Linked DNA regions of Homo sapiens. The protein of the gene in region 2 interacts with the protein of the main gene of each other region in a pairwise test. Each region holds a gene or a part of one and is shown on either strand. Other genes may lie near its edges.

Region 1 (3,500 bases), on a different chromosome or scaffold from region 2:
AAGCTGAGGTTCTGAGAGGAGCTAAACATCAGGCTGAATATTGCAGACTTCCTAGAGTCACACATTTAATGGAGAAATTTCTTGACAAAATCTAATTCAATTTAAACCCAAAGGAGGTAATATTAAAGCGTACACATCACCCCAAGGAGTGTTCGCATAAAGTGAGTTATTTAAAGCAAATCTTCAAATACTGTGCAGCATCTCAGCTCCCAATTTATACTGTTGCAACAGGAAAGCTCTGTGCCTTGAGATTCTGTATAAAGAAGGATGCCTAGGCCAGGACTTCTGGAACTCTGGGGTACAGAGTCACCTGAGCATCTTGTTAAAATGCAGATTGCAGCAGGGCACGGTGGCTCACGCCTGTAATCCCAGCACTTTGGGAGGCTGAGGTGGGCGGATCATGAAGTCAGGAGTTCGAGACCAGCCTGACCAACATGGTGAAACCCTGTCTCTACTAAAAATACAAAAAAATTAGCCTGGCGTGGTGGTGCGCGCCTGTAATCCCAGCTGCTCAGGAGGCTGAGGCAGGAGAATCGCTTGAACCCAGGAGGTGGAGGTTGCAGTGAGCCAAGATCGTGCCACTGCACTTCAGCCTGGGCGACAGAGTGAGACTCCATCTCAAAAAGAATAAATAAATAAATTGCAGATTGCGATTCTGATTCATGCTCCCAGGAATGCTGATGCCACGTGGCCCTGGGTCTTTCTTCAAGTAGCACAGTTATAGATACTCTAGGCCCCTACCCAGTTCTCTGAGGAAGCAACTTTAGCACCAGTTTTTAAGTTGCAGTCAGCTTCATACGTAGCGGTGCTTACCCACGCACAGAACTTGGAGAAAGCTAGAAGACCCACCACATCAAAACTGAGAAAAACCACCACCAAAACCAGCCAGCCCAGGATCAGGGAAGGAAGGTCTGATCCTTAATTTGGTCACCGTAGAGCAGGCGCAAGGAGGAACAGGCAACCCCAACTCAAAGAAGCTGGGGAGGGTGCAAAAGACTCCCCATGCCTAGGATGCAAGGGGATATTTAACTCCACCCTTGATCATTCTGCCCTGCACCCAAATGGTTCATTCACTTTTTAAATAAACCTATATGAGGACCTGTTATATCGGCTGGGTGCAGTGGCTCACGCCTGTAATCCCAGCACTTTGGGAGGCTGAAGTGGGCAGATCACCTGAGGTCAGGAGTTCGAGACCAGCCTGGCCAACATGGGGAAACCCCGTCTCTATTAAAAATACAAAAATTAGCTGGGTGCAGTGGCACACACCTGTAAACCCAGGTACTCAGGAGGCTGAGGTAGGAGAATCACTTGAACCTGGGAGGTAGAGGTTGCAGTGAACCAAGATCGTGCCAATGCCTCCAGCCTGGGAGACACAGGCAGACTCCATTTCAAAAAAAACAAAAACAAACAAACAACAAACAAAAAAACCACCTACATAAGAACCCATTATAAATAAGTACTGTACTAAACTCTATGGGAGAGCCCCTCAGTAAATTAAAACAAAACCCAATAGGGGCAAAAATATGGATGGTGTCGCAAGAATGACAGTCCAGAAGTTCTACAGTGTCTACCTTCTGGCAGGAGAGATAGGACAGCTTCAGGGAAGAAGAGGCGGTGGGGCTGGGCAACAGAGAGACAGGAGAAGGCAATGTACAACCGGGGACTGGCCCGAAGGAAAGAAAGGTGGGAGAAAACCAGATATGTGTTAGGAGATGGCAAATATTCCAGCTGGACTGGAATGGAGGGTCCCAGTAGGTAAAATGTCTATTGTTGGGAATGACTGTAAAGCTGAAGGAATCTTTGAAGCACACCACAGAGGGAAGACCAAGAAAGGGCTGTGTGTGTGTGTGTGTGTGTGTATTTTTTTTTTTTGAGACGGAGTCTCGTTCCGTCGCCCAGGCTGGAGTGCAGCGGCGCGATCTCGGCTCACTGCAACCTCCACCTCCCGGGTTCAAGTGATTCTCCTGCCTCAGCCTCCTGAGTAGATGGGATTAGAGGTGTGTGCCACCACACCCAGCTAATTTTTGTATTCTTAGTAGAGACGGGGCTTCACCATGTTGTCCAGGCTGGTCTTGAACTCCTGACCTCAGGTGATCCGCCTGCCTTGGCCTCCCAAAGTGCTGGGATTACAGATGTGAGCCACTGCACCCGGCCTACTTCATTATACTTAATCCTCAGCACAACTCTAGGATGTCCCTTTATAGAAGAGGCTGAGAAGCTAAGAGGTTCATCCAGGGCCACAGGGCCTGCCAATGAGTCTGAGTTGCTGCTTTGCCAGATATACTCCTTATCCCTGGGCTCCACATCCCTCAACAGAGGATCAAAAACACTGGGGGAAGATAAAAATTAAAAACAATACAACAATAAAAAAGAATACAAATTAAAGAATACAACAGTTATTTACATAGCATTTCCATTGTAATAGGTATTACAAGTAATTTACAGATTTTTTTGTTTTTTTTGAGACAGAGTCTCGCTCTGACACCCAGGCTGGAGTGCAGTGGTGCAATCTCGGCTCACTGCAAGCTCTGCCTCCCGGGTTCACGCCATTCTCCTGCCTCAGCCTCCCAAGTAGCTGGGACTACAGGCGCCTGCCACCACGCCTGGCTAATTTTTTGTATTTTTAGTAGAGATGGGGTTTCACCATGTTAGCCAGGATGGTCTCGCTCTCCTAACCTCATGATCCGCCCACCTCAGCCTCCCAAAGTGCTGGGATTACAGGCGTGAGCCACTGCATCCTGCCCTTTTTTTTTTTTTTTTTTTTGAACTCTGTCACCCAGACCGAAGTGCAGTGACACAATCATGGCTTACTGTAGCCTCAACCTGCTGGGCTCAGGCAATACTCCCACCTCAGTCTCCTGGGCAGCTGGGACCACAGGCACGTGCCACCATGCCTGGCAATTTTTTTTTTTTTTTTGTACAGGTGGAGGTCTCATTGTGTTGCCAAGGCTGGTCTTGAGCCCCTGGGCTCAAGCGATCCTCCTCCCTCTGCCTCCCAAAGTGGTGGGATAACAGGCGTAAACCTGGCCCTTAGAGATGATTTAAAGTATACAGGAGAAGCTGGGCATAGTGGATCATGCCTGTAATCCTCATACTTTAGAGCACTGAGGCAGGAAGACTGCTTGAGCCCAGGAATTTGAGGCTTCAGTGAGCCAAGATTGTGCCACTGCACTCTAGCCTGGGTGATAGAGGAGACCCTGTCTCATAACAAAACAAAACAAAAGTATACAGGGAAGTTGTGTGTACGTTATATGTAAATACGACACCATTTTATATAAGAGACTTGAGCACCCTTGGATTTTTTTTTTTTTTTGAGACGGAGTCTCGCTCTGTCACCCAAGCTGGAGTGCAGTGGCACGATCTCGGCACGATCTCGCCCAAGCTGGAGTGCAGTGGCACGATCACTGCAAGCTCCACCTCCCGGGTTCAGGCCATTCTCCTGTCTCAGCCTCCCGAGTAGCTGGGACTACGGGCACCCGCCACCACGCCTGGCTAATTTT
Region 2 (3,500 bases):
ATATATGAAGTTTCTTTGTGAACTATAAATCACTAAATAAGTGTTATATGTGATAATTATCAGGCCTCTTTGTCACATAGGAAATGCCCCACCATATTTTTCAACAACTTCTCTCTTATTTCCTTGGCTCGAGCTCTGAAGATGTAATAGCCCTAACATAATACCTGAGCTTTTTTCCATCAGTAGCTTGACCAGCAGACTTCATTCCAAATAAACTGGGTCATCCCTTTTGGCTCTTGGAACACAACTCTAATTTAGTTAGTTAGTTAGTTGGTTATTTCTTCCTTTCCTTTTTTTTTTTCCTGAGCCAGGGTCTCATTCTGTCACCCAGGCTGTAGTGCAGTGGCATGATCATGGCTCACTGTAGCCTCAACCTCCTGAGCTCAAGCAATCCCCTAATTTTTTTTATTTTTTGTAGAGCCTGGGACTTGCTATGTTGCCCAGGCTGGTCTCAGACTCCTGGGCTCAAGCAGCCTGTCCACCTCAGCCTTGCAACATGCTGGGATTATAAACATGAACCACACTGCCCGACATTGTTTGTTGTTGTTTTTCCAAGTTTTTTCTTTTTCTTTTCTTTTTTTTCTGAGATGGAGTTTTGCTCTTGTTACTCAGGCTGGAGTGCACTGTCACAATCTCAGCTCACCACAACCTCTGCCTCCTGGGTTCAAGCGATTCTCCTGCCTCCGCCTCCCAAGTAGCTGGGATTACAGGCATGTGCTACCACACCTGGCTAATTTTGTATTATTAGTAGAGACGGGGTTTCTCCATGTTGGTCAGGCTGGTCTCAAACTCCCGACCTCAGGTGATCTGCCCACCTCAACCTCCCAAAGTGCTGGGATTACAGGCTTGAGCCACCGCACCTGGCCCATTTTTCTAATTTCTACTTTGTGTTATTGCTCGTCTTTTTCTCTCCGTTTGGACTAAATTCTTTTTTCAGAGCTCTTCTTCCTTTATCTAAACTGCTTCATGCCCAATTCAATTTCTACCTCCTTAATGAAATTTTTGCATTCTGCACCTTCTGTTAACTAGCCCCCAGTAGTACATAACAGCACACCCAGTCTTTGTCATACAGATTGAGTTATGTACCATTCTACTATTGTTTCTTAAATGTACAGCTCCCTGAAGGGGCCAACTGAGTCTGCACCTCCTTTTGTGTTTTTCACAGGGCCTAGCATAGACCTTTCTTATTGTGGGTGCCATTATTTCTATGAGAATGAGTCAAAGAACTAGTACGGCTTCAAAGTCATTCATTCCAAAACTTGAGCTATCTTTGGTCACTCCATCCTGCAGCCTGCACTGGTCAAGTTCAAAGATCCCATTGACAAACACAAGAGTTCTGATAAAACATGATGAGCAGGGGGACCCCACTCTCCCCCTCCCTTGGGAGGAGCATGCAGGCCCAACCCCCAAGTGTTACAGACCCCTGTTGTTATTTTTTAAATTTAGAAAATAAAAAACCATGATAAGTTATGCATTGCTTTTTGAATGTCAATGCTAGCTTTAAAATTGAGCTTCTTAATGTATTCTCAAAAAAGGCCCTAACACATGAAAATCAAATGAGACACATTAAATAATAATATTTAATTGATTAAAGTCTAATGGAAAATTCAATACTTTTTAAAAGTGCAGCACTTTTGAAAAGTGCCTCACGGCCGGGCACGGTGGCTCATGCCTGTAATCCCAGCACTTCGGGAGGCCAGGGTGGGTGGATCATGAGGTCAAGAGATCGAGACCATTCTGGCCAACATGGTGAAACCCCGTCTCCACTAAAAATACAAAAATTAGCTGGGCATGGTGGCACGTGCCTGTAGTCCCAGCTACTTGGGAGGCTGAGGCTGGAGAATCAGCTGAACCTGGGAGGCAGAAGTTGGCAGTGAGCCGAGATCATGCCACTGTACTCCAGCCTGGTGACAGAGTGAGACTCTGTCTCAAAAAAAAAAAAAAAAAAAAAAAGAAAAGAAAAGAAAAAAAAAGAAAAGTGGTTCATGATAACCCTAAACATGTTGGCCTTTAAAAGACATAAACAACAGGCCGGGTGCAGTGGCTCATGCCTGTAATCCAGCACTTTGGGAGGCCCAGGCGGGCAGATCACTTGAAGCCAGGAGTTTGAGACCAGCCTGGCTAATACAGTGAAACCCCATCTCTACTAAAAATTCAAAAATTAGCTGGGTGTGATGGCTTGTGCCTATAGTCCCAGCTACTTGGGAGGCTGAGGCACAAGAATCACTTGAACCTGGGAGGCAGAGGTTGCCATGAGCCGAGATCACGCCACTGCACTCCAGCCTGGGTGACAGTGAGACTCTGTCTCAAAAAACAAAAAACAAATGAAAACACACACACACATAAACAACAGTATTGCAACTAGAAAAGATTATTAATAATTATTTATGCATGTAGTGATTGGGCTGTGAGAGCAAAAGTACTTGATAAATACAGGAAGTCATGATAAGTGAAAAGGAACTTTTGTTATCGTTATCTAGGTTTGTAGTTCTCAATTCCATGTGTTCATTCATAGATATTGCATGACATTGAAACAGACAAAATATTAATTAATGTATATGACGGTCCACCTCTGTATGATGATGTGAAAGTGCAGTTTTTCTCTTCGGTGAGTAATCACAAAATAGCCTCTGCCATTGTTCTTGTCTGGTCTAATGATTTTATTTCAGATTTGCTTTACTACAATTCCCAACAAGGGAGGGGGAGGGGGAGGAAAACAATAAATCAGATCTATAACAAATTTTTTTAAAAGAGCGTATGTAATTTAAATAATTTGTGTTCATTTGTTTTTTTCTAAATTGTAAATTTTCTAAATTTTTCTAAATTTACCTGTATTCTCAAATACAAAAAATACAAAATAAACACAAAAAAAGTAAAAGCCAAGATGCTAAAAAAAAAAAAACCCAAAGGTACGTTTTACTGCATAGCAATGATTACATTTTGTTTTGCATCTTTTTTAAAAAATTAAGAAGTTGAGACAGGGTCTCACTCTGTCACCCAGGCTGGAGTGCAGTGGCGTGATCATAGCTAACTGTAGCTTCACCCTCCTGGGCTCAAGCAATCCTCCCACCTCAGCCTCCCGAGTAGCTGGGAGCACTGACTAGAAAGAGTTAGGTTTGGGTGACTCAGTTGGGTGAAACAGAGAAGGCAGCACAATACAACACACGAAATAACCAAAGCAGTTTTTTATTAATTCCAGAGAGAAGAGGGCAGCACACAGGGCCAACTGGAAGGGGGAGCCATCCAGGAGACCTGTGCTCGACTGATGGGTGGGAGCAATAGCGAGAGAGAGGGAGGGACCTGAGAGTGGAAGCCTTTATTGGGATGTAAGGTGCTACCTGAGCAGGTTTCCTGAGGGGAAGTCTAATTTGGTTTAACGCAAGCAGCCATGAGTCTCTGCTGTGACTGAGAGGTGGTCACTGATATATCCACATGGTCCCTGCGGAGTATGGGGGTCTGTGGGATGAGTCAAGTAGGTTATATCTAGCTGTCCCATAGTG
Region 3 (2,213 bases), on a different chromosome or scaffold from region 2:
TGGGGCCGGGGCACCGTGGGACCTGGGTCTGCAGGGACTTCTGGCTGGGAAGGTTCCGGTGAGAGGGCCTGCCGCAGGTCTGCGGGGTAGGGTCAGGCAGAGGAGAGCCGAGTGCAGGGGCCAGGTGAGGGCCAGGTGAGGGTCAGGTGAGGGTCAGGTGAGGGTCAGGTGAGGGTCAGGTGAGGGCCAGGCGAGGGCCAGGCGGGGTCCAGGCTAGGTCTGGGGCCGGGAAGGAGCGGGGCCGGGAAGGAGCGGAGCGGAGCGGAGCCGGGGCTGGCCCGGCCCAGGACCTAGACGGAGGGGCCCCACCCTCGGAGCTCCGTGCCCTGCCTCCCGCGTGCCCTTCTGCCACAGCCCCGCCCAGGCCTCACCTCTCTTGGACTCGGCGTCCGAGTCAGACACGTGCGTGATGGAGAAGCGGGACGTGGGCGCGGGCGACACCGTGAAGCGCGAGAAGGGAGCGGGCGTGGGCGTGGGCGCAGCCGGGGCGGGTGCGGCCGGGTCTAGGGCCATGGCGAAGGCTGCCTTGGCCGTCATCAGCGGGAAGTCGTCGTCCCACGCGAACCCACCACCTGCAGCCCAGGTCGCGGCGTCACTCGCGCTCACAGCCTGGGACCCCGGCCCGGCCCCGCTCCCACAGTCACGGGCCCAGGCCCCGCCTCCCATCATGTCACGGGCCCAGGCCCCGCCTCCCATGATGTCACGGGCCCAGGCCCCGCCTCCCATGCAGCACGGACAAGGCCCCGCCTTCCGTGACGTCACGTACCAGACCCGCCTCCCATGACGACACGGGCCAAAGCCCGCCTCCCACGCGTCAAGGACCAGGTGCTCCTCCCATGATGTCACACATTAGGCCCCGCCTCCCACACAGCACGGACCAGGCCCTGCCTCCCGTGACGTCACGGGCCCAGCCCCGCCCCTGCTCACCCTCTTCCGCTGTGGAGCCATTTGGGGAGCCATCAGCCTGCTGCGGCCGGTTGGGGGCGCTGGGAGAGCCGGGGCTCCCCCTAAGGAACGTAGGGGGCGATTCCTTGGCGCCCGGGAAGGGCTCCCCGAGCTCCCGGGTGGGGCTTTCCTGGAGGAATCAGAGAGCACCAGGTAGCTCGGCCGCCAGGAGCCGCGGCCGCTCCCACCCCTTCCTGCGGGAGCGCGACCCCCAGCCCCGGGCAGACCCCGGGTGGCGGCGGCCCACCTGGTCAAAGAGGTAGACGGTGACGTCGTCGAAGAAGGACACGGCCTTCTTCTTGCGTTCCAGGTCCTCGCAGAAGGTCTCGGACAGCAGGCTGGGCATCTTGAGCAGGCTGCGCAGGTTGCGCGCGCTCTGGCTCTCAGCCACCACCACGGGCACCGCCGGCGCCTCCTCTTCGCTGTCCTCGCTAGGCTCCTGGACGCTGTAGCAGCGGAGCTCCTCGTCAGACTCGTCGCTGTCCTCACTGTCCTCCTCCTCCTCCTCCGGCCGGCCCTCCAAGGCCGCAGGGAGGCCGGGCAGAGCCAGGCGGAGTGGGGCTCTGGGGGTGCCTGGGCCCCCCATCCGCTTTTGTGGGGCCGGCCCTGACAACAGTCCTGGGGGCCCCTGGAACTCAGAGCTGTTGCCTTCTGATCTCAGCGGAACCGGGGTCAGCAGGAAAAACTGGGAGCAGCTGGGGCTGGGCCCAGGCCGCACCTTGGCTGGGCCTTGGGGCTCCGGAGGCTCTGGGACCAGGCCCGAGGGGCAGGTGCTGGGCTCTGGGGAGGACCCTTCAAGCTGCAGCAGTGGGGGCAGCACCTCCCCGGGGCCAGAGCCTTGTGCCTCCCCGGAAACCCCAGGCCTGAGACAGACCTGCTCAGACGGCTGCCCAGTGCTCGGCAGGCCCAGCTCTGGCCCGGGGGCTCGGTCCCCGCCGCACTTCTTCTCTGGGCCTGAGGTGGCCTCGGCCTCAGCCTCGAGGTCTGAGAAGTAGGCAGAGTCTCGGTAGGGATTCTTCTCGTTGAGGCCACTGAGGGAGGTGGAGAGCCGTGTCTCGGGCCCGGGGCCCTCACCCTCTGAGGCCAGCTCCGCAAAGGCCTGGGGCTCACACCCTTCCTGCGCCTCCTTGAGCACAAACTCAGGGGACTCATAGTTCTCGGTGTCATAGCCACTGTCCAGCGCTCGCGGCTGCCCTCCAGAGGGGCCAGTGGCCGACGGGCTGAAGACCTCATAGCCACCATCACTGGCTGAGGACGGGATGTCCAGG

What was found.
Region 1: the proteins of TPTE2 (region 2) and PTK7 interact in a two-hybrid assay, tested with the Homo sapiens proteins (one study listed by BioGRID and IntAct).
Region 3: the proteins of TPTE2 (region 2) and AATK interact in a two-hybrid assay, tested with the Homo sapiens proteins (one study listed by BioGRID and IntAct).

What each region holds. Positions count from the first base shown.
Region 1 is NC_000006.12:43,079,314-43,082,813, reverse strand, and holds part of PTK7 (inactive tyrosine-protein kinase 7 isoform a precursor), read right to left. Parts: intron 1-3,500. UniProt on the Homo sapiens protein: Inactive tyrosine kinase involved in Wnt signaling pathway. Component of both the non-canonical (also known as the Wnt/planar cell polarity signaling) and the canonical Wnt signaling pathway.
Region 2 is NC_000013.11:19,425,533-19,429,032, reverse strand, and holds part of TPTE2 (phosphatidylinositol 3,4,5-trisphosphate 3-phosphatase TPTE2), read left to right. Parts: intron 1-2,515; coding exon 2,516-2,608; intron 2,609-3,199; exon of another isoform or gene 3,200-3,326; intron 3,327-3,500. UniProt on the Homo sapiens protein: Acts as a lipid phosphatase, removing the phosphate in the D3 position of the inositol ring from phosphatidylinositol 3,4,5-trisphosphate.
Region 3 is NC_000017.11:81,119,009-81,121,221, forward strand, and holds part of AATK (serine/threonine-protein kinase LMTK1), read right to left. Parts: coding exon 1,193-2,213; intron 1,076-1,192; coding exon 928-1,075; intron 573-927; coding exon 372-572; intron 1-371. UniProt on the Homo sapiens protein: May be involved in neuronal differentiation.